Linked DNA regions of Homo sapiens. The protein of the gene in region 6 purifies or fractionates together with the protein of the main gene of each other region. This does not show direct contact. Each region holds a gene or a part of one and is shown on either strand. Other genes may lie near its edges. The genes, in order: LIG3, GPHN, PPFIBP1, IGF2BP3, SEC16A, SYNGAP1 and CNTN1.

Region 1 (3,898 bases), on a different chromosome or scaffold from region 6:
AGAACAGGAAACTTAACACTTTATTGTTCATCTGTCCTACAAATAATAGCCACAGTCCTCCCCTTTAGGAGATGGGATTTGAACCCAGAGCTCACTGATTCCAAAGTCTGCAAGCTTCATCCCTAGGCTGTACTGCCTCCCAACAAATAGCAATATCCTTCAGATCTTTTTTTCCTTCCTTTGTGTTCCATGAAGTTCCAGTGTTTTGAATAAACAGTTTTAAGAATCAAGAAGGGAGATCCATGCATGACATCTCCCTTCTTTCATACTTTCATTTCTAGGCATATTCAGGGAAACAATTTCTCAAAATTCTTTCATTATCAAAACACAAGGAAGTAAAAGACAGGTTCTAATAATCTCTGTCTGGCCCAGGTAACTATTTCAAGGGGAAAAAGTCTTGACAAAACAAATCTTTCCGCTGCGATAGAGGTTAAAGTATACAAAGAAATGCTATACAAGTGGAATGCTGGCCGAGCGCAGTGGCTCACGCCTGCAATCCCAGCACTTTGGGAAGCTGGGGCAGGTGGATCACCTGAGGTCAGGAGTTTGAGACCAGCCTGGCCAACGTGGCGAAACCCCATCTCTACTAAAAATACAAAAATTAGTCAGGCATGGTGGCAGGTGCCTGTAATCCCAGCTACTTGGGAGGCTGAGGTGGGAGAATCGCTTGAACCCAGGAGGCGGAGGTTGCAGTGAGCTGAGAATGCACCACTGCACTCCAGCTTGGATGACAGAGCAAGATTTCATCTCAAAAAAACCCCCAAAACCAAAAAACAAACAAACAAACAAAAACCAAGCGGAAGGCTTAGAATTAGCCATTACCAGTCTCTGCTCAGACAGAAGCAAATTATTAATGAGATGAGATAGCACAGAATTTTCACTCTTTAGCCAGAATCCTAGGTAGAATACAAAATAAAAGCAGCACTATAACAGCTAAAGTAGCCCTAACCTATCTTACCTGAAAAGCCAGAAAATTTCCGGGGATTGGTACTGGTGACAAATGAGGCGCCTTTCACTGGAGAAGTCACCTGGCCAGTGGTTGTCAACTTAGCCTGGACAACAGCTTTCTTCTTTGGTGTACCTGCTGCCTTAGAAGACAGATCTGTAGGATCCCAAAAGAGTATAAAATATCCTTCAGTGAACGATCTCTGAAAAAAACATCCAAAGAATCTATCAACTGCTCCTAGGGCCTTGCTTGTTAAGTCACTACCCTAGCACTAGCCCAAGGCTGGCTGGTGGCTGGTATTTTTTGAGTGGGGGTAGTAGGTAATAGGGTATTGTGGGGACAGAAGGGAAGGATATGCTGGAGACAAAAGATCCAGTTACCATTTATCTCTATTAGTACCTTAAATTTTCATCAACATTCTCCACTTCTTATCCCATATGTAAGTCTCCAGAAATAACAATTTGGGGGAAATCAGAAATCATAGTTTGATGGATAAAACTTAGGGAACCCCCAACCCCACAGAATTAGCTTCAATTTAGAGATGAACAAAAAGTAAATGAGGATCACAGAGCATGTCAACCTAGCATAGGAAGGAAAATTTCCAGATGCTTAGTTATCTGAGTCATGAACTCTACCTGTATTTCTCTTCCTCCAAATGAGAGATGGGTCAAGAAGTAACAAAGGCCGAGGCCAATAGCTAAGGCAGTGCAAGGTGGGATGGGGAGCCTGAGAATAAAGTATATGGGAAGCACAGTTTTCTTTCCCGGAAGTCTTTTTTCCTTTCAAAGAACAAGGACAGATACCCATTTTTAGAGCCATTGTTAACTGTCTTCCTATGGTGACCAGAACTAAGTTGAAGATATGAACATTATTTTACAGACACTGAAGGTCAAAGAGGACTAACTGGATTTGGGGGTATTGGCATAAAATTTCTAAAATATGCATATGTAAATATGCATGTACATGCAAACATGTTATATATAGCCATATATAGGTATGAATTTTACATGCATATACACGCACATATTTTCTAGCTCTGTCTGCTGAAAGGGCTTAGAAACAGACATGCCATGGCTGGGCGCTCAGGCCTGTAATCCCAGCACTTTGGGAGGCCAAGGTGGGTGGATCACTTGAAGTCAGGGGTTCAACACCAGCTGGACCAACATGGTGAAACCCTGTCTCTACTAAAAACACAAAAATTAGCTGGGTGTGGTGTCAAGTGCCTGTAGTCCCAGCTACTTGGGAGGCTGAGACAGGACAATTGCTTGAACCTGGAAGGCAGAGGTTGCAGTGAGCTAAGACAGTGCCACTGCACTCCAGCCTGGGTCACAGAGTGAGACTCTGTCTCAAAAAAAAAAAAAAGAAGAAACAGATACCCCATGACAATGTGTTCACATAGTATCCGGGTTTTACTCTTTAATACCATTTCCCACTAACAGGATAGTGCCACTACACTCCAGCCTGGGTCAGAGTGAGACTCTCAAAAAAAAAAAAAAGAAGAAACAGATACCCCATGACAATGTGGACACATAGTATCCAGGTTTTACTCTTTAACAGGGGCATTTCCCACTAACAGGAATCCCCAGAGAAATTACCAATTTCAGGGCTGGGGAAGGATACATACGGGATAAGACTAAAAGCATCTTGCTATGCTCAAGAGTAAAGAAGTACATTAAAAAAAGTTAATGAAGGTATACAGGACACAGAGGACAGTGTAAAGGGGTTCCTAATTGGCCAAATATGGGACAATTAAGTATCAAATTAGTTAAGTACAGTAATGAATTATATGCTACAAGAAAAAAAGTAAAAGAGGATAGTAATCAGTACTCTATTCTTCCAAAATATCAATGTCATAAAAGAGAGACTATGGAAATATTTCAGATTAAAGGAGGCCAAAGAAACATGACAACTAAATGCAACACCTGATATGATCCTAGACTGGGATCCTATACTGCAGGAAAAGGCTACTGAAGGTATGACTCAATCCATTGACAAAATAGTATACAGATGGTAGATTTAAGTATTACATCAAGGACAAATTTTCTGAAGATGATAGCTATATTATAGTCGCATAAGGGTCATATATCCTATTCTTAAGGTATATACACTGAAGAATTTTAAAGGGCCATGATGTATGCAACTTATTCTCAAATGGTTTAAAGTGAGTGCACGCACACGTGTGTATGTATGTAGAGAGAGACAGCACATGAACAAATATGATAAAGCAAATAGAGTAAAATGTTAATAGGTAAATATGGGTAAAAGGAATATGAATGTTCTTTGTACTATTTTTAATCTTCCAACACTTCAGTGAGTTTAAAATTATTTCCAAATAAAACGTTAAAGGCTGGGCATGGTGGCATGCGCCTGTAATCCCAACTACTTGGGAGGCTGAGTCAGGATGACCTGAGTCCAGCAGTGCAAAGCTGCAGTGAGCTACGAATGCAACATTAAACACTGGCCTAGGCAACAGAGTGAGACCCCATCTCTAAAAGAGCAAAGTTAAAAAAAAGAGAAAGAAAGCAGTTGAACTCCTTATCCCTTTTTCTCTCAGCACCAGTAAGATGAGAAAGCAGTGTTCTCTACCTTACCTGCAATGTGCTGGGTTATCTGTTCCTTCTCATTATCTTCCAGCTCTTCCCAGCCTTCCAGCTCTGTGAGGTCCTCGATTTTTTTTGTGGTGGCCCGGGCCCGCTCTAGTTTCTCAAACATGCATTTAATGTGGTACCACTCTTTCATATCACCCCCAGACTCTGAGAAGGGATTGGGCACCACTTTGCCAATTCGGCATACGCCCTTCACAATCTTTTCCTTGCATTTTTTGCAGCCAGCTGTGCCACGCTTGGCATAGTCCACACAGAACCGTTGCTCAGCCATCTCACAGGGGCCACTGCAGAGTCCCACATGCAACCCTGGCAAGAAAACAAGGTAGGTGGCACGTGATCTTAGATG
Region 2 (3,898 bases), on a different chromosome or scaffold from region 6:
CTCCTTTATTAATCTGGTCTACCAGTGAGTTTTATGCTTGTGTGTGTTTTTATGATAGTGATTATTGTCTTTTTTGCTTCCAGATATATGACTCCCTTGAGAATTTATGGTAAGGCCAGTGTAGTAGTAATGAATTCTCTCCATTTTTGCTTGTCTGGGAAAGACTATTTCTCCCTCATTTCCAAAGGATAGCTTTGCTGCATATAGTATTCATAGTTAGAAATTTTTTTATTTCAGCACTTTGAAGATGTTATCTCCTTTCTTCCTGTCCTGTAAGGTTTCTGCAGAGAAATCTACTGTTAGTCTAATGTGGATTTCATTATATATGACTTGATTTGGAGACCTTTGGAATTCCTGGACCTGGATATCCATACCTTTCCCCAGACTTGGGAAGTTTTCAGCTATTATTTTATTAAATAAGTTTCTTATGCCTTTTCCTTTCTTTTTTTCTGAAACTCCAATAATATGAATATTTGTTCTTGTATGGTGTCCCATAAGTCTTACAAGCTTTCTTCACTCTTTTTCATTCTTCTGTTTCTCTCTGTCTCTCTCTCTTGCTGGGTATTTCAAACAACCTATCTTCCAGTTCAAAGATTCTTTCTTCTGCTTTATCAAGACTGCTATTGAAGCTCTCTATTGTAATTTTTTATTTCATTTTTTGAATTATTCAGCTGTAGGATTTCTGTTTGGTTCTTTTTTATGATTTCTCTATCTTTGTTGAATTTATCATTCTTATGAATTGTTTTGCTGATTTTGTTGAATTATCGCTAGGTTTTGTTTTTGTTTTTGTTTTTGTTTTATCTAATTGAGTTTCCTTAAGATCATTATTTTGCAATTTCTTTTCCAGGAGTTCATTGATTTCCTTTTCATTGGAGTCTGTTACTAGAGATGTATTCCTTTAGTGGTGTCATATTTCCTTGCTTTTTTGTGTTTCTTGTGTCCCCATGTTGATCTGTGTGCCTAGTGGAACTTTTGCTTCTTTCAGACTTTCTGGGTGGTTTTGTAGAGACGCCTGTAGTTGGGCTTTAGTGTGTTGGTTGCAAAGGGTATGGTGACTTTCTGGACAGGTGCAATGGTGTAGTCTCCTTGCAGCTTTTTCAGTTGCATTCAATGTCAGTAATAACTGTGAGTACCTCAGTGGCCTAATCCATAGAAGTTTGTGTCAGTGGTAGTAGTGGCATAGGCTGTTAATATCCTTGGTGTCAAGGGCTTTTAGAGTCCTCCTCTTCTTGTTTTCCACACAATAGGGAGAATCAGCTGAAGGGATCCCTCTTGGTGTTAGGTCTGACATGCCCTCCAAGCAGCTACAGTGGCACTGGGCTCAAAATATGGTGCTTGGAGTGACTGTGGAGCCAGGATCCAAGGCTCAGGGTCTTGTGAATCCATTGTGGCACCTGGTTCTTGGGGTTCAGGTTCACTCTCTGTGGCAGAGTTGGGTGTAGGTTATCCAAAGAACCAAGGTTTATGACTGAGGCACCCCCTAGCAGCTTGGACCCAGGTGCCCTGGTTGTACCTGTGATTTTATACCTCATGGGTAGGGTGTAGTACTGACCAAACTCCAAAGAAAAAGGTTTTGGCCAGGGGAGCAGGGTATGGCCGCAGCTCAGGAACCAGAGCCAGTAGGGCTCAGCAGCAGCTCGGGTCACAGTGGATAAGGTACTGTGTAGTAGTGACCCTAGACCCCTGGATGGTGGGGCTACGCAGGTCCTCACTTCAGACTCTGAGGCCAGGTGCAGAAGCAGCAGATACCTTAGAATGGCAGAGCGCAGCTGTGGTTTGATCCCCGGGGGGGCCAAGGATCAACACAGAAATGACTCAACTCCCCAGAGAGGGGGGTATCTCAGCAGCTCAGACTCTAAGGGGCTATAGTCTAGCTCCAGAGAAGCAGGGTACTAGAGTTATTTGGCCTGTAGGTCAGGATATCTTGGCTCAATCAGCACTCTGTTTCCCTAGGACATGAGTGACTACATCAGCTCAGCCTGGGATGCGTAGGTGCTCAGCTTGGCAAAGTGTGTGCAACATACTTTCTAAGCCTTGCCATAACAGAGCAATATGTCTGGAAAAAGGATGATTAAAGAAGATTAGAAACTATCTCCAATGTCTGGATGGAGTTAAGGGAAACCAATAAAGGAATCTGCAGCACCCAGGAGCTAGCAACAGTGAGATTTCCTTACCACATCTTAGTCTGAAGGAGCAAAGAAAGACAATGGTACCTGAACCTGGGAAGATTCATATCTGTGGGAGAGGACTGCCCAACAGCAGCTCTTGCTCTCAGTAGGAGAGATGCCCTAACCATCACCAAACTGCAGCCCAGGAGGAAAAGAGCAAGGGGAATGAAAACTCTACTTTTCTGTCTCTCTCCTACCCTCTACATCTCTTACTGACCCCTCCCTTTGGCTGAGTCTCACCAGACGCCAAAGTGGTGGGAAACTGGTTAAAATAGTCCATAGAGGTCAGCTTCTGGACCACAGCACAGAGTAGAGAATGATGATGTGATCTGGAGAGGCAAACAGAAAATGAAACAAATCTTTGTCTTTGTAAGGCTTATATTCTGTAATATATAATGCACTTAACATTGTACCTAGCATAGATTGTGGGTTCAATAAATATTAGTTATTGGTAGTATTGCTTACAGTAATAATATTATGGAGAGAAGATTTTTAAGACTTTTGTAATAAATTTCCTGTTTTACTTTGATTGTACTTTCAGTAGTAAGGTATTTTTTTTTCTTAACCATTCCCTAAGGGGTGTGTGTGTGTGTGTGTGTGTGTGTGTGTGTGTGTGTGTGGTTTATTTTACTTTGTCTTATTTTGGTGGTTAAAATAACAACAATGACAAAACATACACACACATAACATTAAATATACCATCTTGACAGTTTTTAAGCTTATAGTTCAGTAGTGGTAAATATATTCACATTGTAGGGACTTAAGATTTTAAATAGAGTCATGAGTTACTTAATGAAGATATATTCTGAGAAATATGTTGTTGGGCAATTTTCTTGTTGTCCGACCATCATAGAGTGTACTTACACAAACCTGCATGAGTAGCCCACTACACACCTAGCCTACATGGTGTGACCTGTAGCTCCGAGGCTACAAACCTGCACAGCATATTACAGTATTACTGAATACGTAAGCAATTATAATGGTATTTGTTTATCAAAACAAAAAGTACAGTAGAAAATATGGTAATCTTATAGGACCACCATCATATATGCAGTCCAACATTGAGCAAACTATCCTTATGCAGCACGTGACTATACTTATGAGGCAGACATCTTTAGAAAGGAATCTTTTGGCAGGGGGGATTAATATTGTCTCAGGATTTTTTCTTAGGGAGAATTTGAAGCATTCATTTTCCAAACTCCAGTCTAAATCATTGCCCCTGACAAGTGACTTTCAGATCACTTCTCTATCAGATCAAATCTATCAGATGAATCTTACAGAAAAATGCTTTTCCTCATGTTGTAAGAAGTTAGCAGGGAAGGTTCTGTCTCTTATACCATCAATATGAGAGCACAAACAATGAAAATCTTGTTTTTCATTTTCAAAAGTAATGTTTAACCTAGGTCATTACAGACACTGGAATCATTTTTAAATGATTTAATTATATTTGCTCAACCTCTATTATTAATTGATAGGTGAGCTAATGTGTTTTAGAATATTTTCAAAGGCAATAATTAAAATATTTCTGGCTTGCCTTTATTTAACCAAAAAGTTTAGTTAATAAAGTACTGCATTTCTCAAACATTAGAACTTCAATAAGTTATGAAGATTTTTTTTTGTAATTGTTATTCACAATGTATGTCCTAGCAATTTTTTTACTTACAGACTCTCAAATCACTTTACATATATTAGGAAAATGTACATTATTTGAGAGGCAAAAGTGGCAAATG
Region 3 (3,898 bases), on a different chromosome or scaffold from region 6:
AAATTGCATTTTCTGTCTAAAAAGTCTGCTCCATGGAGTACAGTTACTCAACAACCCACTAAATGCAAAAAGAAAGGGAAAAATTCTCTTTTAAAGAATTTCTGTCATAGTTTGAGTTTCAAGCTTTCTTATATACTAATAAAGCATTGCTTTAGGAAAGGAAGTCTTTTTTTTTTTTAAGACAGGGTCTAATTCTCTTACCCACGCTGGCGTTGCAGTGGTATAATCAGGGCTCACTGCAGCCTCCATCTCCCAGGCTCAGACGGATCCTCCTACCTCAGCCTCCTGAGTAGCTGGGACCACCAGCGTGCACCCACCATGCCTGGCTAATTTATTATTATTTTTGTAGAGACAGGGTCTTCCTATGTTGCCCAGGCTGGTCTTGATCTCCTGGGCTCAAGTGATTCTTCTGCCTTGGCCTCCCAAAGTGCTGGGATTATAGGCATTGGCCACTATACTTGGCCAGAAAAGGAAGTCTTTATAGTGATATTTATCTCTGTTGATTAGAGTCAGGAAAAAAAAATACACCCAAGAAAAGGAAGAAGCATAACTGAAAAAGAACCCTTGGCTTTAGTTACACAAGGGGAACCGTCATGGAGAGAAAAGGAAGGAATACAGAAAAAGCCTAAGAAGTAAATGAGGCTGGATTTTAAGGCTTTTCCTGCAGGCTCCAAGAAAAATGGCTCTTAGTTTCGACACATGGACAGTCCCATGCCTGGGAAGTGCATGCTTATAAACCTCAATCTTAAAACACTACCTCATCAGATGGCCGCCTCCGTAGACAGTTTGGTTCAAAGTTATTGATCCTCAGGACCTGGATGGCCCTTTTGATACTGAGATGGTGTAGCACACTTACAACCTTCAGAGACAGTAAGTCATCCTGCAAAAAAGAACAAAAGGAGGAGCTCACTGTGCTGGCCTGTAGCAGGAGGACTTTCTTAGGGAATCTCAGAAAACTGGAGTAAAAGGAGAAGAGCCCCTCAAACCAATATGCCCCAAGGTCTTGTCAGAACCCACTTTCCCATTTGGAACAAAATCTTCCCCCAAACCCCAGATTAGTATTTTTTGCCAATGAAGCTGACTTCCACCTGTTTCTCTCTCTTCCAGATGCTCTGAGATCTGTAGAACCCCAGGGCTCTGAAAAACACAGTTAGAAAAGCACTTGCTGGGTCACTACAAAAGGTGATCTGCTTTGACTTGATCTGCACATACTACAAACAGGGAATTTATTTGTTTCCTCTTTAGTTTTGAGAACTTTATCGGTGGATAAAGTACTTAGGCTTTGGATAAACTGCCCTCTCTGTTTCCTTTCAGCAGATAGTGAAGAGCGAATGATGCTCATTGGTGAACATGATCAAGAGTTGGCTTTCTTTTTTCATCTTTTTTTTTTTTGGAGAGATAGGATCTCACTATACTGCCCAGGCTATCTCAAACTCCTAGGCTCAAGCAGTCCCCCGGCCTCAGCCGCCCAAAAAGCTGGGATTACAGGCGTGAGGCACCGCTCCTAGCAAGGCTGGGTTTTCTGAACTAAGGCACATCATAATTTTGGGGAAAATCAGAACAGTGCTCTTATTATACTATTCCCTGACCTTAATAATTCTCTAGTTCTAAATTATTTTTTAGTAAGGACCTGTCTGCTATTGAATAGCTCTAGATTATTATGGTTTATCTAGCAGACATTGTGAACAATTTTGGCACAACTATAATCAATCAGTGCAAAGGTTTTGGTCAGAGTCAAGGAGAGAAGAAAAATGAAGTTATAAGTATCACATATATATATTACCAATCAACCCCTTCAAGGAAGAATTTTCACCAGTCTGTGGCTCTTGGGAATATTTTCAAATATACCAAACACACCAAAACAAATTATTTCAGAAGAAGGTGATATTGGGAGCAGTATGAAGATAAGCAACAGTCTACTTCCAAACACACCCAGAAAATAAACAAGGAAAGCATCCATTTTAGACACACCTTTCTGATAAAACACTTCTCATGAAAGAAAGAAAAAAATGTAATCTACTACAGAAATATTTAATAAAAATATTAATCAGTTTAAATCCTTGAGGCTACTAACCAGGCAAAAATTATTTCCTGAAGTTTTTCTGGAGTAATTCCTTAAAAGTAGTGTCTTAAGACATGTTAGAAAGAGTACTTATTTTAATCTAGGATTGAGACACCCATTCCAAACATTTCAGTCTGGACTCTTTTCATCTAACTAGTCTGTCAGCTTAAAAAAATATCTGAATGCACAATGTTTACAGTGTGATTAAAATGTTAATTATTTTTGAAATTCTTTATACTTCGAAGGATTTTAAAAAGAAAGTTTTATTTTATATCAAAACAGACTTTCTGAGTGATTTTCTTCCCAATTTTTTTAAAACTTTTTATTTTAAAATAATTTTAAATTTGTGGAGGAGTTGCCAAAGATAGAATAGAATTCTGTATACCTTTCACTCAGCCTCCTCTAATGTTAACATCTGACATAATCATGATTACATTCATCAAGACTAAGAAATTAATGTACAATTGACTAAATTGCAGACTTTATTCACATTTCACCAGTTTGTCCAGTAAGGTCCTTCTTCTGTTCCAGGATCTAATCCACATTAAAACACATATTTTGTGACTTAGGATTTCTGGGGTCAAATTTTCCAGGGTCATTTACTCTTTTATAGCCATTTCACAGATGCTTCTTGTGATTTTAAGCTTGAATTTGTTCACATTCTCAGGGGGAACATACTCACACTTAGAGAGGGAGGCAAATATTTACTGAATGTGTTCTAGTCATAATCGTGAGCTATTAAAAGCAGGGATCTTGAAACAGCCTGAGTTCAAACTCTCTATGACTTTCTATTGCTAACTGTGGAAACTTGGTTACCAAGTTACCCAACCTCTCGATTCCTTCCTTTATACATGTAAAAAAGTAGGGATAATAATAGTATTATAATACTATAGATACACAGAGTGTGTGTGTGTGTGTATATGGATACACACACACATATATACAAACATGCATATATGTGTATGTGTGTGTATATATATATATACATACTCTATGTATCTACAGTATTACATATGTGTGTATAATACTATGTATATACAGTATTACATAATTATATAGTATATATGTGAACAAATTCAAGCTTAAAATCACAAGCAGCGTATGTGAAATGGCTATAAAAGAGTAAATGACCCTGGAAAATTTGACCCCAGAAGTCGTAAGTCACAAAATGTGTGTTTTAATGTAGTGTCCTAGATTAGATCCTGGAACAGAAGGAGGACCTTACTGGAAAAACTGGTGAAATGTGAATAGTCTTCAGTTTAGTTGATTGTATTAACATCTACGTTAATTTCTTAATTTTGATGAATGTAATCATGATTACGTAAGATGTTAACGTTAGAGGAAGCTGAGTGAAAGGTATACAGAATTCTAGCTTTGGCAACTCCTCTGTAAATCTAAAATTATCTTAAAATAAAAAGTTTTAAAAACTTTTTAATATATATTATACACACTATAATAATATTAGTAATATTAACTAAAAGGGTTATTGAGAATCCAGTATTAATATGAGCAAAATGCTTAAAAGGATGTTTGACACATAGCAAATGTGCAACATACTACACATATTAGTATTATTTCACGCAGGTTTATGTGATGTGCTCATCAAGGTAAGGGGCTTGGGTTCAATGACAGAGAAGAAAAATCCATGAACTGAACTCCAAATTTTTTTGACATTGAGAAATGCCTACTTAAGTTGGCTGTTTAAAACTTGCTACTTACTTGAAAAAGATTATACTTAGGGTAGTTAGGTCTATAGCCTACTTCACAAAAAGCTGTTTAAATAAAAGAATTTTAGGCCGGGCACAGTGGCTCACGCCTGTAATCCCAGCACTTTGG
Region 4 (3,898 bases), on a different chromosome or scaffold from region 6:
AGTGGGATTTGAGGTCTTTGGGGCTGCAGTGTGCCTTTCAATGTCTACTGAGAGATGGTAGAGCTGAGACTTGGCAGCCAGGCTGCTAGTTCAAATCCTAGCTCTGCCATTTGCCTTGTATGACATTGGGCAAGTTACTTAACCTTTTTCTGTAAAACCAGGGATAAGAGCACCTACATCCTAAGGTAGTTTAAGGTTTACACAATATATGAAATGTTTAGAAAAGTGCCTAACACATGGGCAGCACAAAATTAGCGTGCTGGGGGTATTCAACAGACTATGGATGAATCAGACTAAGACCATGCCAAATTCATAAATATATTCCTTTTAGTGTATGATTTCTCCCACAAAATTTAGTATGGGTGTCTTGTCTTAGAACATTTAGTGGCTGTGTAAGAAGACAACTATTTAACCTTAAGCTGTAGTTTTTTTTTTCTCTTTTTTTTTTTTTTTTTTTTGAGACAGAGTCTCACTCTGTCGCCCAGGCTGGACTGCAGTGGCGTGATCTCAGCTCACTGCAAACTCCACCTCCTGGGTTCAAGCGATTCTCCTGCCTCCGCCTCCCGAGTAGCTGGGATTACAGGCATGTGCCGCCACGCCCAGCCAATTTATTTTTAGTAGAGATGGGGTTTCACCATGTTGGCCACACACTCAAACTCCTGACCTCAAGTGATCCGCCCACCTTAGCCTCCCAAAGTGCTGGGATTACAGGCATCAGCCACTGTGCTCCTGGCCAAGCCTTAGTTTTTTTAGCCTTAAAGTGTAACAGTAACTAGTAACAGTGCATACAGTTCTCTCCCCACCCCACCTCTCTCCCTTAAATCAAACAAAAAAAATCACTTTCTTTGACTTCTATTTTCTCTGGGCCATTTTTTCACTAAAAACCCAAAGCTGCTTTCACTTATGTGAAGAATGGGAAACGAAGGAGGTGCTTTGAGATGTGGGTGGTTAGGTGAAGAAAGAAAATCATGTGAAGAAATTTATTCCTTCACAGCAGCCTTGTGATCCAGGCAGTTCAAATCTTAACTCAGAATTGTTGAAAACTGCTTCCTATCCCAAACTCTCAGGGTCACTTTTAGTTTGAAATCTTAAAAGATAAATACAAACATGTCTTTCCTTGGTGCTGAGCTTTTAGTCTTATAAGTAGAATTACTGTCCTGCAACTCCTATGATGTTTGTATGATAGGAACTTCAAAGTTCTTTCCCTGTATTCACTAATAAAACTCATGTTTTATAGTTAACTTAAATGTAACACTTAAGCCATAGTAGTTAAATTTTATTTATGTGATTGGTGACAATGCTAAATGAATGTTTTACTTTAGAGATCTAAGGAATGGTAAACCACCTACCCCGTATTTTTCCTTACAAATTCAAGAGCTTCAGTTTTGGAGGATAGTGTATATCCCTAGTGTCTTTTTGACTGTCTTAAGTAATAGTAATATCTACGTCATTGGCCTGAGGCATTAAGGATCATTGGAATATAGGGTATCAAGATGAATTTTGTTTTGTCGGTAGTGCCCTAAAATGAGCTCAGCTTTCTGAATCAGTGAACGCGTGTTGGGTACTATTGTTTTTTGTGGTTTACCCTGGCAGCTTGTCAAACCAACTCTCAGGCTCCTTTCTGCTTTGCTGTATGTAATAGGTTGTTTATATATAATAGGTTGTTTATATAGTTGCATGCAGTAGGTGATAGGATGTATTGACTCTAAATATCAGAAGTGTCTTGGCCAGGCGCGGTGGCCCACGCTTGCTATCCCAGCACTTTGAGAGGCCTAGGTGGGTAGATCACTTGAGTCCAGGAGTTCCAGACCAGCCTGGCCTACATGGCAAAACTCCATCTCTACTAAAAATACAAAAATTAGCCAGGCATGGTGGTGGATGCCTGTAATCCCAGCTACTTAGGAGGCTGAGGCAGGAGAGTCACTTGAACCCAGGAGACAGAGGTTGCAGTGTGCTGAGATCGCACCACAGAGAAAGAGACTCTGTCTCTAAAAAAAATAAAATAAAAAAATAAAAAAAAATAAAAGGCAGGGCACAGTGAGTGGCTCATGCCCATAATCCCAACACTTTGGGAAGCCAAGGTGGGTGGATCACCTGAGGTCAGGAGTTCAAGACCAGCCTGGCCAACATGGTGAATCCCCGTCTCAACTAAAATAACAACAAAAAATTAGCTGGGTGTGGTGGCGGGCACCTGTAATCCCAGCTAGTTTGGGAGGCTGAGGCAGGAGAATGGCTTGAACCCGGGGGTCGGAGGTTGCAGTAAGCCGAAACCATGCCATTGCACTTCAGCCTGCATGACAGGGTGAGACTCTGTCTCAAAAAAGAAAAAAGTGTCTTACCTTGATGTTGTAGCCTCTTTAAAATATTCAAAGGAAAAACCACCTTTCTAAGAGTATGAAACACATTTAAATTGAAAACATTTTTCTCAGCAGGTTTCTAACTGGCCCATGTAGATGTGAGCTTGACTTTTAGTGAGCTTGGCATAGCTGACTCTGCAGTTCTGTCTCTTTTGCTCAAAAAAAATGTGACCAGGTGTGGTGGCTTGCACTGGTAATACCAACACTTTGGGAGGCCAAGGCAGGACTCTTGAGCCCAGGAGTTTGTGATGAGCGTGGCAACATAGCAAGACCCCCATCTCTATAAAAATTAGTGGCGCAGTGGCTCACACCTGTAATTCTAGCACTTTTGGAAGGCTGAGGTGGGCACATCACTTGAAGTCAGGAGTTCGAGACCAGCCTGACCAACATGGTGAAACCCCATGCCTACTAAAAATGCAAAAATAATTAGCCAGGTGTGGTGGCTAGTGCCTGTAGTCCCAGCTACTCAGGAGGCTGAGGCAGGAGAATCACTTGAACCTGGGAGGCGGGGGTTGCAGTGACCCAAGATCGTGCCACTGCACTCCAGCCTGGGCAACAAAGTAAGACTCCGTCTCAAAAAAAAAAAAAAAATAAGTCAGGTGTGGTGTTGCATGCCTGTAGTCTGCTACTCAGGAGGCTGAGGTAGGAGGATCGCTTGAGCCCAGGAGGTTGAAGCTGCAGTGAGCTATGATTGTACCATTGCACTCCAGCCTGGACAACAGGAGGACCCTGACTCCAACAAAAAGGAAAGAAAAATGCAACTGATGTCTCATGGCCAGCATGAGAAGTTTTACCTATCACAATTTTAGTACGAATGGCCATTTGCCCACAAAAATTCGTTTTTATTAGGTTATTAATTGCCTTTAACTGTTTTCATCAGAAGAATATGGTTTATCCTTCTTTCACCAAGCATTCAGTTGCCTCTACTGTGATGGGCAGTAGTTATTGTCAACCTTTTAGGACTTCTAACTGCTCTCTTCTATGTTATTTTCAACAATCTATGAAATGTAGATGTATCACTGCAAAGGGCTATCCCACTTGGATTTGGGCCATCTTTCAAGTTAACTGACCTTTTCCATTTCATACATGAATGACACTAATAGGATGTGTTTTCATCTGCAGGCTCAGGGAAGAATTTATGGAAAAATTAAAGAAGAAAACTTTGTTAGTCCTAAAGAAGAGGTGAAACTTGAAGCTCATATCAGAGTGCCATCCTTTGCTGCTGGCAGAGTTATTGGAAAAGGAGGCAAAACGGCAAGTACTTCAGCAAAACCTGTGCAGTGGTATGAAAGGGAAAGCGTTGAAAGGTACTTAGGAGTTCCAAGTCCCCGAATTTTGGCTAATTTATAAAAAGCAGGACCATCTTGACCAAGGTTTGGAGAAGATTGCCTTTTGTTTCCTGTCTGAGTGTTGGTGCCAGCTATTAGTGAAAGTAATGCATCTCTTTCAGATCACTTTGTGTGAGAGGATTGTCCTATATTTATAAAGGGCATTTAACGTTCTCCTGATAAAACTTTAGCTTTTTATGGAACAGACACTTA
Region 5 (4,562 bases), on a different chromosome or scaffold from region 6:
ACAAAGAATGTTCACAGCTCTATTTTATATGGACTGAAAGGAGAACAGGCAGAGCATCTTCCTCTGATCTGTGCACTGGCATTATCTTCCACTGGGTCCTACCAGCTGCACAGCCACAGCAGACACAGCGACACCTGCAACCACGGCCAGAACACGCAAACTTCCAAGCACCTCCTGAAACTCTGCTGCCAGAACTGGGGTCCTACCTCATCTCTCAAGACATGGCCTTCCCCGGGAAGATCCTTATCATCCTCAAAAGCTTTTGTTTGCTTTAAACACAGAGCACGGGCCTAGAGGTTTATTCCTTGGCTGCTGCTGTGAGAGCAAAACTGAGTGTCCAGGTGAGTGGCTCGAGGCAGCCACTCCTCTTTCTGCAATGTATTTTTGTCTATAAAATGCGAGAATCGATGTGATTATTTTTTCCTAAAAAACCCGGGTTTAATCTTATGAGATTCTACTCACAGTGGATTCTGGGATGTCCTAATCCCACCTGCTGTTTAACAGGGGTGGCCGGGCACGGTGGCTCACACCTGTAATCCCAGCACTTTGGGAGGCCGAGGCGGGCAGATCAAGAGGTCAGAAGATCGAGACCATCCTGGCTAACACGGTGAAACCCCGTCTCTACTAAAATACAAAAAATTAGCCGGGCGTGGTGGCGGGCGCCTGTAATCCCAGCTACTCGGGAGGCTGAGGCAGGAGAATGGCGTAAACCTGGGAGGCGGAGCTTGCAGTGAGCTGAGATCGCGCCACTGCACTCCCGCCTGGGCAGAGCGAGACTCCGTCTCAAAAAAAAAAAAATTATTCCGCAGCTCTCCTAGACTAAGAGCTTTTTTATGGCAAACATTATCACTTACAAGGAGCATTCCAACCTTCATGCTCCCTAATTGAGAGCTTTTTAGCAACATGCCACTTTCATTTGGAACAATCTTGTGACTTGAACTGATTTTTTTGATCTTTTTCTCTACTCACCAGGAGAAAAACAATGCAACTGCCTATCACCTATGTCACCACTACAGGGAATTTTATTCTTTTTTTTTTTTTTTTTTTTTTTGAGACGGAGTCTTGCTCTTTCACCCAGGCTGGAGTGCAGTGGCGCGATCTCGGCTCACTGCAGGCTCCGCCCCCCGGGGTTCACGCCATTCTCCTGCCTCAGCCTCCAGCGTAGCTGGGACTACAGGCGCCCGCCACCTCGCCCGGCTAATTTTTTTTTGTATTTTCAGTAGAGACGGGGTTTCACCGTGTTAGCCAGGATGGTCTCGATCTCCTGACCTCGTGATCCGCCCGCCTCAGCCTCCCAGAGTGCTGGGATTACAGGCATGAGCCACCGCGCCCGGCCCAGGGAATTTTATTCTGTAACCTCAAGTCATCTAATTCTTTTATTGTTCCAAAGAGGCCAGCTGATCTTGAAAATGCAGTATTCATAAACCTAGCTAGTCAGTTAAACTGCCTTGTAACCATGTGGATACCTAAGCAAAACTCTTTTTAGTACAGTTCTGGCTACAGAACTGAGGCATTTAAAATGCATGCACACCCCTCTCCTCTTGCTGCCACTGGCTTCATATTTTAAGTGAGGAAAACAATAGTGTGCCAGGAAGCCCCTGAGTTTACCTACTGCCTACAGTCTCCCTCACGGTGGCTGCTAGTGACGCCCTGTCAGACTGTGGGATGCTTGACACAAAGACATGATCAACTCCAACTCTTCTAAGTTAGAATCGCAACCACATACAGTTAGATGTTGAAGAGGAAGCCAGCGACAGAGGAGGCCAGCAGCCTAACACTGATGAAAATGACGAAGACCCTGGTATTCATGAAAGATGCTTACAGAAGAAGAAATCACATTAACATTTACCCACTACCATGACCTCTTGCTGGATTTGGCAAAAAAAGACAAAGAAAAAGAAAAAAAAAGTGCCCACTGCCTCAAAGAAAACTTTAAGTACAATTTTGAGACTCACTGTAGTAACCACTATTAACAGTAAACGAGGAACAAGGAACAAGAAAGACACGCTATTTTGCCTCTTGTCTACAAGATACCAGCACCTGAAACTTAAGAAAGGGGATGAGGAAAAAACGCAGGGAGGCTGCATTGTGCTGAAACTTGCAAAAGTATCACTTCTAGGAAGAACCGTCTGCGGTTCCGTTTGCTTCGTATTGCCACATGGGGGATGGGAAATACCTCTTTGGTTAACATCGGCATCACACATGTAAAACAAAATCTTAATATACAATCCACACCCAACTTACAAGCCATTTAAAAGTGTTCTTAAGCGGCAAAAACTGACTTTAAATGGCTCTGATGTTTCTGAAGGCTCTACTGTAACACTTCCATCACAAAGGGGCGAGCCGGATCACACACACTCCTCTAACCCTCGGCCTCTGTTGCAACATCCTGATCGCCCAATCAAGAAATTACAAACAAACAACTCTGCTCTTTGGTTCAAATGTAAATGTGTCTCTTCACCAGCATCGCTAAGGAAGCCTTCTAGCCGGTGAGGACAAGACACGCTCATTTGAAAAGTTAAGAGTCTTACGAGGGGTGCCTGGGGGTCCAGCCTCCCGCCCCGGGAACCGGCGTCACCGCAGCCCAGCCGGGTCCACGTCAGTCCCTCGAGTCCCACGGCGGCCCGCGCCGCGTCCGGCCTTCCGCTCTGGCCCGGGGGCCCGGACGTCTGTCCCCTCGACCGGCCCCGGCGGGACCCGAGATGCACCGCCCGCTCGGGGCTGGGCCCAGCCGCCTCCTCTCCTCCGCGCCCCGACCTCCACGGCCTGGCTCCGCCGGCCGGCCTCCGCCTTCCTCCTCCCGCGCTCGCCCCCTCACCCGCGCTCGCCCCCTCACCCGCGCGGCTGAGACCGATCCCTCAGGAGCCGCGGGCGAAAGCCCACCCGACGCTGGCGACGAGCACAGACACCTCAGCCGCCGCAGCCATCTTGGCACATCCGGCTCGGGTCTCCGCGGCCGCCGCGCCGCCGACGTGTCCGGCTTACGACATCAGCGCGCGCCCCGCCCCTGGCCCCGCCCCTCGGCTCGTCGGCCCAGACGCGTTCTCTTTCAGCCCTTCACAGCCCATCCCTCGGCCCCGCCCCTCGCCGGCGTCCGTCCTCCCCGCCTCATCCCTCTGTCCCGCCCCCTCTGCCCCCGCCCCTCGCCGGCGTCCGTTCTTCCCCGCCTCATTCTTTCGTCCCGCCCCCCGCCCGTCTTCCACGCCTTATCCTGTAGTTCCCGCTCCCCTTGGCCCCGCCCCTCTTCCGTCGTTCCTCGCCTCATTCTTTCGTCCCGCCCCCTTAGCCCCGCCCGTCGTCCGTCTTTCTCCGCCTCATCCTGTCGTTCCCGCCCCTTTGGCCCCGCCCCTCGGCCGTCCTTCCCCGCCCGTGGCCCCGCCCCCCTCCGGCGTCCGTCTGCCGCCTCACCGCTTGGCCCCGCCCCTCGCCACCTGCCCGGCCAGGCGCGCCGGGGCCGTCCCAGTACGTCGCCCTGTTTACGCTGGCTCTTTCTCCCAGTCTTTTTTCGTTTTAAGATGTGAGAAGAGATGGGATTCTTCAATCAAGGCCACAAGCGGGAAATCAGTCTGCAGGACCGATGCCAGCAGGCTCACGCACCGAGAACGGCTACTCCGCCCAGCTGAGAAGCGCGGGGCCCTGACGCGGGCGCGCTCCTCGCATTCTTCCGTTGGGCTGGGAGGCTGGAGGGCAGGCGGCGGCGGCCGCGCATGCGCCGGGAGCGGCCGGAGCTGCGGGACGCGGAGGGCCGACTGCGCCTGCGCGCTGGTTGCCTGGTTACGGCGTGGCCGCGGGCACCGAGCGGCGCCGGAAGTTGGTCGATGGCTGCCGCCAGTCCCTGGCCAGCGTCCTGGGGTTTCCCCGACGCATCCTCTACTGTCCCTTCGCTCTGCACAGAGGCCCGGGCAGGGAGGGGCGGCCCGGCCACCGCGCGGAGCCGGGTGTCCGCCGACTCGCAAGGGGGACGCGCGGGCTCCTCGTCCCCAAGCTCCGCCCTGCGCCTTTGCTGCGCCGGGCCCTCCCAGGCCCACCCTGGCCCCAGCCCTGCTGTCCTCCCGGGGAGGTGCGGCCTACTCGGTTCGTTCCCCCGGCCGCCAGCCCCACAGGGGCGCTGGGGTCCCAGCCTTGGCTGAGTGCACGTCGGTGGCGAGTGGGCCCGGGCGCTCGGGCGGCCAGAGCGACCCAGCGGAGGGGTGAGGCGGGTAGGCGCTCCTGTGCCTGCCACGGCCAGGCCAGGCAGCATCCACGCCCTCCCGCGGAAGATCGCAGGGAACAGGTGGGCACTATCCTCTGTGCCCTCATTTTTCGGAGGAGCCGAGGGAGGCTGAGCGGTTGAGGAAGCGGCCAGCCATGCCGGGCCCACTCACCTGCACACCTGCCTGGCAAGGGCAGGGAAGAGCCGCGGCCTTCCTCTGCTGCTCCTTCCAGAGGGCAGGCGCCGTGGTGGGGGTGCCCGCCCGATGGCATCGCGGGAGGCTGAGCTCCCAGCAGCGGCTGAGGTCCTCCCTGGGTGGGAGCCACCCTTGTCCCCAGCTGGGCCGGCGGCTGGTGAGGGAGGGGGTGAT
Region 6 (4,365 bases):
TGTAGGAACATTGGGATCATGAGATTCTGAGGGCTAAATATCTAGAAAAGAAGAAGTCGGGGAGCTTACCTGTTCACAGTCAGAGACATGAGAGGGCCTCCCCTCCCAACTCTTCCCTCCTCTGTGCCCTCCTCCCCTAGTTCAACCCTGCTCATCCTTTAGGGAAAGTTCTGGTTCTTCTGGTGGTAAGGAGAAGATGGCTTTTGTCGGCATCTGGCTGTGGAGGCCCCAGGGCAGAAGGTGGGAAATATGCCCTTGTTTGGACAAGTAGAGACCAAATTTATCTCTTCTCCCATTCAGTGCCCAGAGATTCAACACTGCCCCCACCACCTCACCCCACCTAGTCTCAGTGGACAGGATGGAAGCCACTCCATAGGTCAGGAGCCTTCTCAAGGCACAGTGAGGAGCTTGAGGAAGAAAGATGTCAGGGGGAAAGAATGGAATATCCAGGCCTGGTGACACAGAGGGGCCTCCAAAGACAAGAGCTGGAGATGGGAACAAAACTTTGAGAAGAGAGAACAGTAGACCAAGTGTCGCCTATGGCTGAGATGAGACCAGGGTCCTCCTTCCCCAGCTCTGTTGTTCTTGCCATGCCGCTCTCCCTGCAAACTGCCTCTCCTTTAAACCCCAATGCCACACAGGCCCTATTGAAGTAAGAGAGATGTCACATTGGCGACAGCAAAGAGCTAGAAATTAGGCTTAAGGTATCAGATTTTAGATGGAAAAAAGATCAAACTCTGTCACCTTTATGGGATAACCATGAGTATACTGCAGGAGAACTGGTCTTTGAGCTTCATTCCAACAGAATGCACTGAGTAGCAGAGTTTTGCAAATTCAGCCCTTTTCTGTCTATAAATATGTCTCTCAAATTTACCCAACCTCCAGATCACAGTGAGCGATGAACCCTCAGAATGTCCACCATTTAGAAACCACATACTTTGAAACTCTATCTCAACCCATCTCAGAGACTAACTAATGTTCTCTAGATACAGAGATCACCAATACCTAGCCTCTGAAACTACAGACATTGCAGGCAACATGCCCACCGCACTTAGACACTTGGTATACCCAGAGGAGAAATCTGTTGATACACATAAGCATTTGGGGAAAGGGCTGGTTCAGGCTGCAGCCAAGGGAGGCGGGTTAGACTTCAGAGGGCATCTTTCTCCTGGCAGCAGGGAACTTAGGAACAACTCTAGAAACACACACACACATACTGTCTGGACTTGGTGAAGAATGATTCTGGGAGGCAGATGCAAGAGGCAGAGCAACATGGCTGAGAAACGGGAAATTTTTACTAGGATGAGAAATCCCTCAAGGGCTGAGATGGGGATCCCTTGTTCTAATCATCAAAACCTGTGTCTTTGTACCCCAAATCTCCAACACCCCAATAAGTAGAGGAGACAAGAAAAGAGAAATGATAATAAGAGTTGAGGTATTAAGGGAAAGTGGGTAGGCACAGACTTGTGGTGACAAGGAATGGTCTGGGAGACAAATAATAGGAGTAGATAGAAAAGGAGGCAGAAATGATGGTAAATGCCCAGGGGCAAGGGAATACACCTGAAGGGCTCGACTGGACATGTGTCAGAGCAAAGGAGGCAGACCTAATGCGGAGGCTATGAGAAGGGGTCAAGACGGACTAGTAAAGAAGTGATAGAGATATAAGGGAGCGACCACATAGAAAAGAGATAAGAGAGAGGCAATGAACACCAGAGAGGGGACTGATATAGGGGAAGGACAGAAGGGGGACTCATATAAGGAACGGACACCATATGGGGGGAAAGATATAGGTGATGGACAGCAGAGGAGGGAGGGGGAATGGAAATAAGGATTGGAGGGGTGGGGGAAGGGGGTAAAAGTGATGAAGTGAAGACAGCATTAAGACCCCAGAGGTTACATTTTACTGGTCAAGAGCCTTTAAGAGGGTCAGAGTCTGGGGCAGGATCCTAACCTGTCCCCTACTCCCATCATTTCATCTTACTTGTACTGCCACCCCCCCAAGCACACATAATTTGGCCCTCCCCCTGCCCTGGTCTCCCCTCCCCCACCGTTCCCTCTCTCTTCTCTCTTCCCTCCATCTGGACCCTCCATCCCCCCACCCCCCACTGCCTCCCTCTCTCTCCATCTGGCCCCTTCTCTCCCTCCATCCTCCTCTCTTTTTCCGCCCCTTACCATACTCTGAGTCCCCCACCAAATTATCCCCCCACATCTTCTTGGCTTCTCTTTTCACCCCTATGTTTTCATTTCTCCTTCCTAGCCCCTCTCCCAAGACTCTGTCCCTCTATTTCCTTGATGTTTTCCTCATCACTCAGCTCCCACCCCCAAATTATTTCTGCAGCTTTTTCCCCAACCCAATCCTTCTACCTTCCCACCCCTTTCTGGCGCTTTCTTTCCCCTTCATCATTTTCCCTTCAGCCCCCTTTCAAGGCCCATTTCCTGGCCCCTCCATCCCTTATCTACCCCTATCCCTCTGGCCTCCAATCCCTCCTTCCCGGTTGCTCCCACCCCTGCCTTCCCGGTCCTCCCCTCTCCCTCCATTTCAGCCGCTCCCTTCCCTCGGCCCCGACTCTCCCCCGCCCCCTGCCCCTCCCCCTGTTGCCCCCCATATGGCCCTCCCCCTCCCCCCACCACGTACCTCTGAAGGGGGCATAGGACATCGCGGGGATGCTCCCCCGATGGATGGAGGCTCGAGACCTGCTCATCAGGCCTGGGGGGAGGGGGCGGGGGGACGGGGGAGAAAGAAGAGAGAAAGAGGGGGAGAAAGAGGGGGAGAAGGAGGAGGAGGTGGAGGAGGAGGAGGAGGAGAGAGGAGGAGAGAGGAGCAGAGAGAAGCAGAGAGGAGGAGAGAGGAGGAGGAGGAGGAGAATAAGAGCCAACGGCAGCAGCGGCAGCCGAGAGAGAGGGGGGGCGGGGGAGCGAGCGAGAGCGAAGAGAGCAGGAGGAGGAGGAGGAGGGAGAGACTCTGCAGCCCCCACCCCTACTCCGGGAGGCCCAGATTGTGAGAGAGAGAGAGACCCCTGACTCAAAAACACACCAGAGAGAGACAGAGGTCCTAAAGATGCAGACCCCAGACCCTGAGACAGAGAGACCCTAGACCCACAGAGAAAGATACTTCACCACCCCCCACTGTGGGGTAATTTGAGACACAGGGCCAAAATCTAGAGGAAAAGAGACTCCTGATTTGAGGAAAAAACGACCCCAGATCCCCCAGAGAGAGAAGCTCAATATCAAAATCTGAAAATCCAGTCTAAAAAGGGTTCTCCATACCTACAGATATCTTAGACTCCAGACCCTGAGATGATGATTTCAGGGACCAGGACCTGAGACCTAGACTCAGAAAAAGATGAGGCCCAGATTCAGAAAGAGCCAGATGTAGAATTAGAGCTTAGAGAACTCAGACCTAGAAAGAGACCCCAGACTCAGATCTCAGAGACTGATAACTTAGAGACAGAGACACTCCTGACTTAAGGGGAGATAGAGACTTCAGCTGGTCCGGAGATGGACAACTCAGAGACCCAAAATTCATGAAGAAGACTTCGAAAGACCTCAGAGTGCGACCACAGACCCTGAAACATAGAAACCCCCCAAACCAGAAGCATAAAAGGAAACTCAATCCTAAGAAAGATCTCCACACAAATACTGAAAGACCCCTCCGAAATCTGTCTCAGAGACAAACTCCAAACTCAAAGACAGAGATCTCAGGGAACCTCCCCTCCCCACTTCCCTGCCCTAGAACCTCCGAGAGGTATAACCCTGACGTCAGCCTGGGAAACTCCGAGGCATCCCCACCACCAGACCAATGACCTCAGACCTTGAAGGGAGGGGAAATATTGGGTGGGGGCAGTGGCAAGAGCTTTTTTCTCTGCACCTCCTCCCACCTCTCTGCCTCTCATTGGCCCCTCTCTCCATTTTTGGGTCACAGGATGTGCTTGGGCCCCAGGGAAGTTATGTAGGGCAGGTCCTGGCTCCTTGGGGGATGGGTTAGGGAAAGGAGACCCGAGGCTGAGAGGTGGACCAATCCTGGGGAGTGGAATAGGCAGGGAAGAGGGGACAGAAGGACCATCACCACTGTCCCCATCCTGCAGCCCTCGTTCTCCTTCCCTCTGATTCAGTAGTCTGTCTCAAGCTTTGGGTTTTCAATTAAGATGGCTAGGCCCCATTTTCACCATCCTCTACCACAGGGTCTCGCTCTGTTTTAAAATGCTTCTTTCCTCAGCTAGCTATTGTCTTGCCATGCCCGTGCCTGCCTAATCACTCCCTGCTACCCAGGGACAGCGGGCTTCTAGATCACCGTTGTTCATTCCCAAACCCAGGCATATCTCTGCCCAACTAAAAGGGCAGGGGGCGCTCTCTTAACCCCTGAGT
Region 7 (3,898 bases), on a different chromosome or scaffold from region 6:
GGCATGAAAAGGTTAGGTCAGTTAAAAAGCAGACAAGAAAACAGGTTATTTATAGTAGAGAATAGAACATGGGGAACATGGGAGGGTGTTGCGAGAAAAGAGGAAACAAGATGCATTAGGAGAAGGCAAACCGTTCAGTTGATTGACATTACGGGAGATTGGAGATGGAAGAAATTTGATTAATCAGAAAATGAATCTAGAGAAGTTACCACGTACCATTTAATAAAGGACTTTAGGTGCAATGCAAAAGACTTCAGACATCTTACTAATACAAAAAAAGGGGAACTAACTCAAAAAATTTTCAGCAGAGGAAGAATACGATGAAATTGGTTTTAGAAAGACAACTGTGGTTATGACATATAGAATGTACTTAGAAGAAGGCGACTATGAGGGAGGAGAATGAAATAGGGACTTCAAACTCTGAATATGTTTCTTACACAGAAAACAATGTTGTAAAAAAATTTAAGTGGCTGGTCTCATGGCCGGTCATGGTGGCTCACGCCTGTAATCTCAGCACTTTGGGAGGCCGAGGCGGGCGGATCACAAGGTCAGGAGATCAAGACCATCCTCGCTAACACGGTGAAACCCCATCTCTACTAAAAATACAAAAAAATTAACTGGGCGTAGTGATGGGCACCTGTAGTCCCAGCTACTCGGGAGGCTGAGGCAGGAAAATAATGTGAACCCAGGAGGCGGAGCTTGCAGTGAGCTGAGATCACGCCACTGCACTCCAGCCTGGGCGACAGAGCGAGACTCCGTAAAAAAAAAAAAAAAAAAAAAAAAAAAATTAAGTGGCTGGCCTCAAAGCACGCTGCTAGTAACTGACTGAGCTAGGTTTCATGCAAAGCTCTGCATAACTCTTAACACCTATGCTCTGGAGAACCGGGCAAACCTGCCTCTCATAAAAGAAACTAAAGCAACCAGCCCTAAGCAAATTGAGTAGTAACAAGACAGTGCAGGAAAAGTGGTGACATGCTCAGGTCTACACCATCAAAATCAAGTACAGGAGTGAAAAATTATCTACTGAGTTAAGGACCATCTGGATAATCCTGGCAGAAGCAGATTTAGTGCCTGAGTCATTCAGATAATTGTGCAAACAATGTGCCCTGCTCTGGCTGAGTAACCTGGCCATTAATATCTTCCATAGTGCATTCTGCCCTGTGGCTCTTTTAAAATGGACAATAGTAGCTCAGAAAGAATTAAGGTACTATTCACTTCATGGGAGAGCTGCCTAAAGAATAATAGGATCTTAATAGACTGAGTGGATTTTATGTGTCCCCAGAGCCATTTCGCACTGGGATATACATATGATATACATAAGCCAGATTCTGCTTCAAAGGAGGAAAGAAGTTCAGCAATAGCACCGTCACATGTTGTTTTTATATTCAATTCTCCGTTAAGTGGTAGAAAGTTTTCTGAACCTGAAAGCTACAAAGAGACACTACTGCAAATAGATTTATAAACTACAGTAAAGCTATACATTTCTGTGTGTTAGAAAGCATTTTTTAAAATGCAAAGAACAAGATGCAGACAATTTTTGCAGTATACCTCAGATTTCCTATTACATGAAGAAAATATGAACACTCCAATAAAGAGTCAAATGAAATTCACAAATTAAAAAATACAAAGAACCTATAAATATAACATTTTTGAACTCATCCAAAATCATAGGAACAATAACTCAGAAGAATAACTAGATACACAATTTGTACTATCAAAATGATCCCAATTTTTAAAAATAATATCAAGTGTTAATGAGAGTATGGCCAAACTGGTACAACCACTGGTAGAGAATAAATCTGTGCTTACATTTTGGGGGAAGCAATTTGGCAGTAAGTGTTATGAGGCTAAAAATATTTACACTTTTGCCTGGGTAACTTCTAAGGTGTCATAAGGAAATGGTCAGAAATGCAAATATTAATGTATACAAAGGTTCATGTTCTTGACGATGCAAAACTGAAAACAATCTGAAGATCTATCATAGAATATTGACAGCCAAAAAACACATGGATAGTAAGAATATTAAATGAAATGAATAAATGTTTATGGTATATTAAGTTTAAAAAGCTAAATACAAAAGTGAATGTTCACTGTAAACTCAAATCTATAATTGAAAAATACCTATTTATATTAATAGAAATAAGACTAGAAGATTGAAATAGGATCTCTTTGTACTGCGGAATTTGGTGGATTTTTCTTTATTCCCAGTATTTCTTTAATGATTTTAGATGTCCTTATAATAATAAGATATTATTTTCAATTGAATATTAAATAGATAGACTTTTGAGTGTAACTTTACACAGTTGGTCATTCATATTATTGAAGTGAAATAATGCCCCATCCTCCTGCTGCTACATTTCCAAGGTCACACAACGGATCAGTCCTGTTGTCAGGAGTTGAACCTGAGTCTCCTGCTCCAAAATCAGTGCTTTTTAAGATACGAACTAAAGTACAGTGAAAGTTTCAAAGGAAAGTAGAAGCACTAATGAAAATTGAAAACACATTATACCAATAATACATGGCATCTTAGATTAAAGCAGATAGACTTATAAATTGGAAGTTTTGATAACTTGCCTACTGGACTCATCCAGGCATGGAGTGCCAGAAGAAACTAGTGCTGGAATAAGCAGAGAAAGATACAAATTAGAGTTGAAAATAAAAATGAATCAATTACTGACTATATGGTGAACACTTGGACTAGAGGAAAGAAAGTCTTAAAAAGTAACTAACCACAAGCCAGAAAGCCTGTAAAGTTGTAGTCTCCATTGATAAAAGCCAGTTTAGGAATGATGCCTATTGATGGGGAAAAAGCAAAACCAGTTTTCACCTTGTGCATTACAATTGCTACAATAGCACTTCTATTATTAATAGCTATTCTTTATGAGTAATTACCATGGGCCAAACCTTATTTTGAATGTTTAACACGCATTATCTCACTTAATATTTTACAAATCACAAAATCCTCTCACGTAAGTGCTATGATAATCCCCAGTTGACTTGCTGATGTTCGCTTAACTGCATCATGATACATAAATATTAACACCTGCAGGCTTCCTCCCAAAGCCTGTGCTCTTAGCCGATAGGGTAAGTGTAAAGGAAATGGCTAATGGGAGGGAGATTAGGAATGGAAATGCAGAAGGAGAACTTTATTTTCAATAAGATAAATTGTCATCAATTTGGGGGATTTGCTTGAAAGCTAGAAGTAGAAAGAGAAGATAAGAGGGAGACAAAGAAAGGAAAGTTAGAAAAATTAAGAAAAAAGTACGCTATCAGAGCATTGTGGTGTCAAGGAGCAAAATTTCAAGAAGATGGACAATATGGAAAATAGAAGGTCAGAAGAGAACAATCGATAATACATCAATAAAAAGAAAACAAACATTGGAATTGAGGAGGAGCTTACTGGTGAGTTAGAATAAGTTGTGGGATATGATAGAGACCATGGCCAATTTACATGTAGAAATAGATGGAAATTGGAGAATTTGTTGATTTTTTTTGAAATAAGGCAATTACAGGACATATTTTGTATACAGAAATATAAATTGTCTATTTCAGCTCTTCCTAGTTGGTCTCAAGGGACACAAGATACAAGAGAATACATAGAACCAGTACATAGTCATAATCCCTACTGTAGAACCGAGTCATTCTATGAAAAGATATAGAAACACCTTATGTCATCCATTACTCCTCATGGAGAGGATCATAAAGCCAGAGGAAGTTTCCTCCCAAGGCATAGCCTTCTACCAAAAAAATATCCCCAAATCATTGCTGCACCCATCCAGCTTCTTAGGATGATGCTTCCTGAACAAGAATCTTTAAGGCTACTTATTATAGGACTGTGTTCAATGTGGTGGGGTATACAAAAAGATTATAAGTGTAGTCTTTTTCTGCAAAGTACTTC

The links.
Region 1: the proteins of SYNGAP1 (region 6) and LIG3 purify together in Homo sapiens (co-immunoprecipitation; 2 studies listed by BioGRID and IntAct, with this or other methods). This does not show direct contact.
Region 2: the proteins of SYNGAP1 (region 6) and GPHN purify together in Homo sapiens (co-immunoprecipitation; 2 studies listed by BioGRID and IntAct, with this or other methods). This does not show direct contact.
Region 3: the proteins of SYNGAP1 (region 6) and PPFIBP1 purify together in Homo sapiens (co-immunoprecipitation; 2 studies listed by BioGRID and IntAct, with this or other methods). This does not show direct contact.
Region 4: the proteins of SYNGAP1 (region 6) and IGF2BP3 purify together in Homo sapiens (co-immunoprecipitation; 2 studies listed by BioGRID and IntAct, with this or other methods). This does not show direct contact.
Region 5: the proteins of SYNGAP1 (region 6) and SEC16A purify together in Homo sapiens (co-immunoprecipitation; 2 studies listed by BioGRID and IntAct, with this or other methods). This does not show direct contact.
Region 7: the proteins of SYNGAP1 (region 6) and CNTN1 purify together in Homo sapiens (co-immunoprecipitation; 2 studies listed by BioGRID and IntAct, with this or other methods). This does not show direct contact.

The regions. Positions count from the first base shown.
Region 1 is NC_000017.11:34,983,192-34,987,089, reverse strand, and holds part of LIG3 (DNA ligase 3 isoform alpha precursor), read right to left. Parts: coding exon 3,538-3,898; intron 1,103-3,537; coding exon 959-1,102; intron 1-958. UniProt on the Homo sapiens protein: Isoform 3 functions as a heterodimer with DNA-repair protein XRCC1 in the nucleus and can correct defective DNA strand-break repair and sister chromatid exchange following treatment with ionizing radiation and alkylating agents.
Region 2 is NC_000014.9:67,105,966-67,109,863, forward strand, and holds part of GPHN (gephyrin), read left to right. Parts: intron 1-2,408; exon of another isoform or gene 2,409-2,497; intron 2,498-3,898. UniProt on the Homo sapiens protein: Microtubule-associated protein involved in membrane protein-cytoskeleton interactions. It is thought to anchor the inhibitory glycine receptor (GLYR) to subsynaptic microtubules.
Region 3 is NC_000012.12:27,684,367-27,688,264, reverse strand, and holds part of PPFIBP1 (liprin-beta-1), read right to left. Parts: intron 881-3,898; coding exon 758-880; intron 1-757. UniProt on the Homo sapiens protein: May regulate the disassembly of focal adhesions. Did not bind receptor-like tyrosine phosphatases type 2A.
Region 4 is NC_000007.14:23,313,235-23,317,132, reverse strand, and holds part of IGF2BP3 (insulin-like growth factor 2 mRNA-binding protein 3), read left to right. Parts: intron 1-3,479; coding exon 3,480-3,611; coding exon of another isoform or gene 3,612-3,664; intron 3,665-3,898. UniProt on the Homo sapiens protein: RNA-binding factor that may recruit target transcripts to cytoplasmic protein-RNA complexes (mRNPs). This transcript 'caging' into mRNPs allows mRNA transport and transient storage.
Region 5 is NC_000009.12:136,480,102-136,484,663, forward strand, and holds the start of SEC16A (protein transport protein Sec16A), read right to left. Parts: upstream 2,940-4,562; 5' UTR 2,837-2,939; intron 1-2,836. UniProt on the Homo sapiens protein: Acts as a molecular scaffold that plays a key role in the organization of the endoplasmic reticulum exit sites (ERES), also known as transitional endoplasmic reticulum (tER).
Region 6 is NC_000006.12:33,418,602-33,422,966, reverse strand, and holds the start of SYNGAP1 (ras/Rap GTPase-activating protein SynGAP), read right to left. Parts: upstream 2,903-4,365; 5' UTR 2,703-2,902; coding exon 2,636-2,702; intron 1,966-2,635; exon of another isoform or gene 70-1,965; intron 1-69. UniProt on the Homo sapiens protein: Major constituent of the PSD essential for postsynaptic signaling. Inhibitory regulator of the Ras-cAMP pathway.
Region 7 is NC_000012.12:40,695,118-40,699,015, reverse strand, and holds part of CNTN1 (contactin-1 isoform 1 precursor), read right to left. Parts: intron 1-3,898. UniProt on the Homo sapiens protein: Contactins mediate cell surface interactions during nervous system development.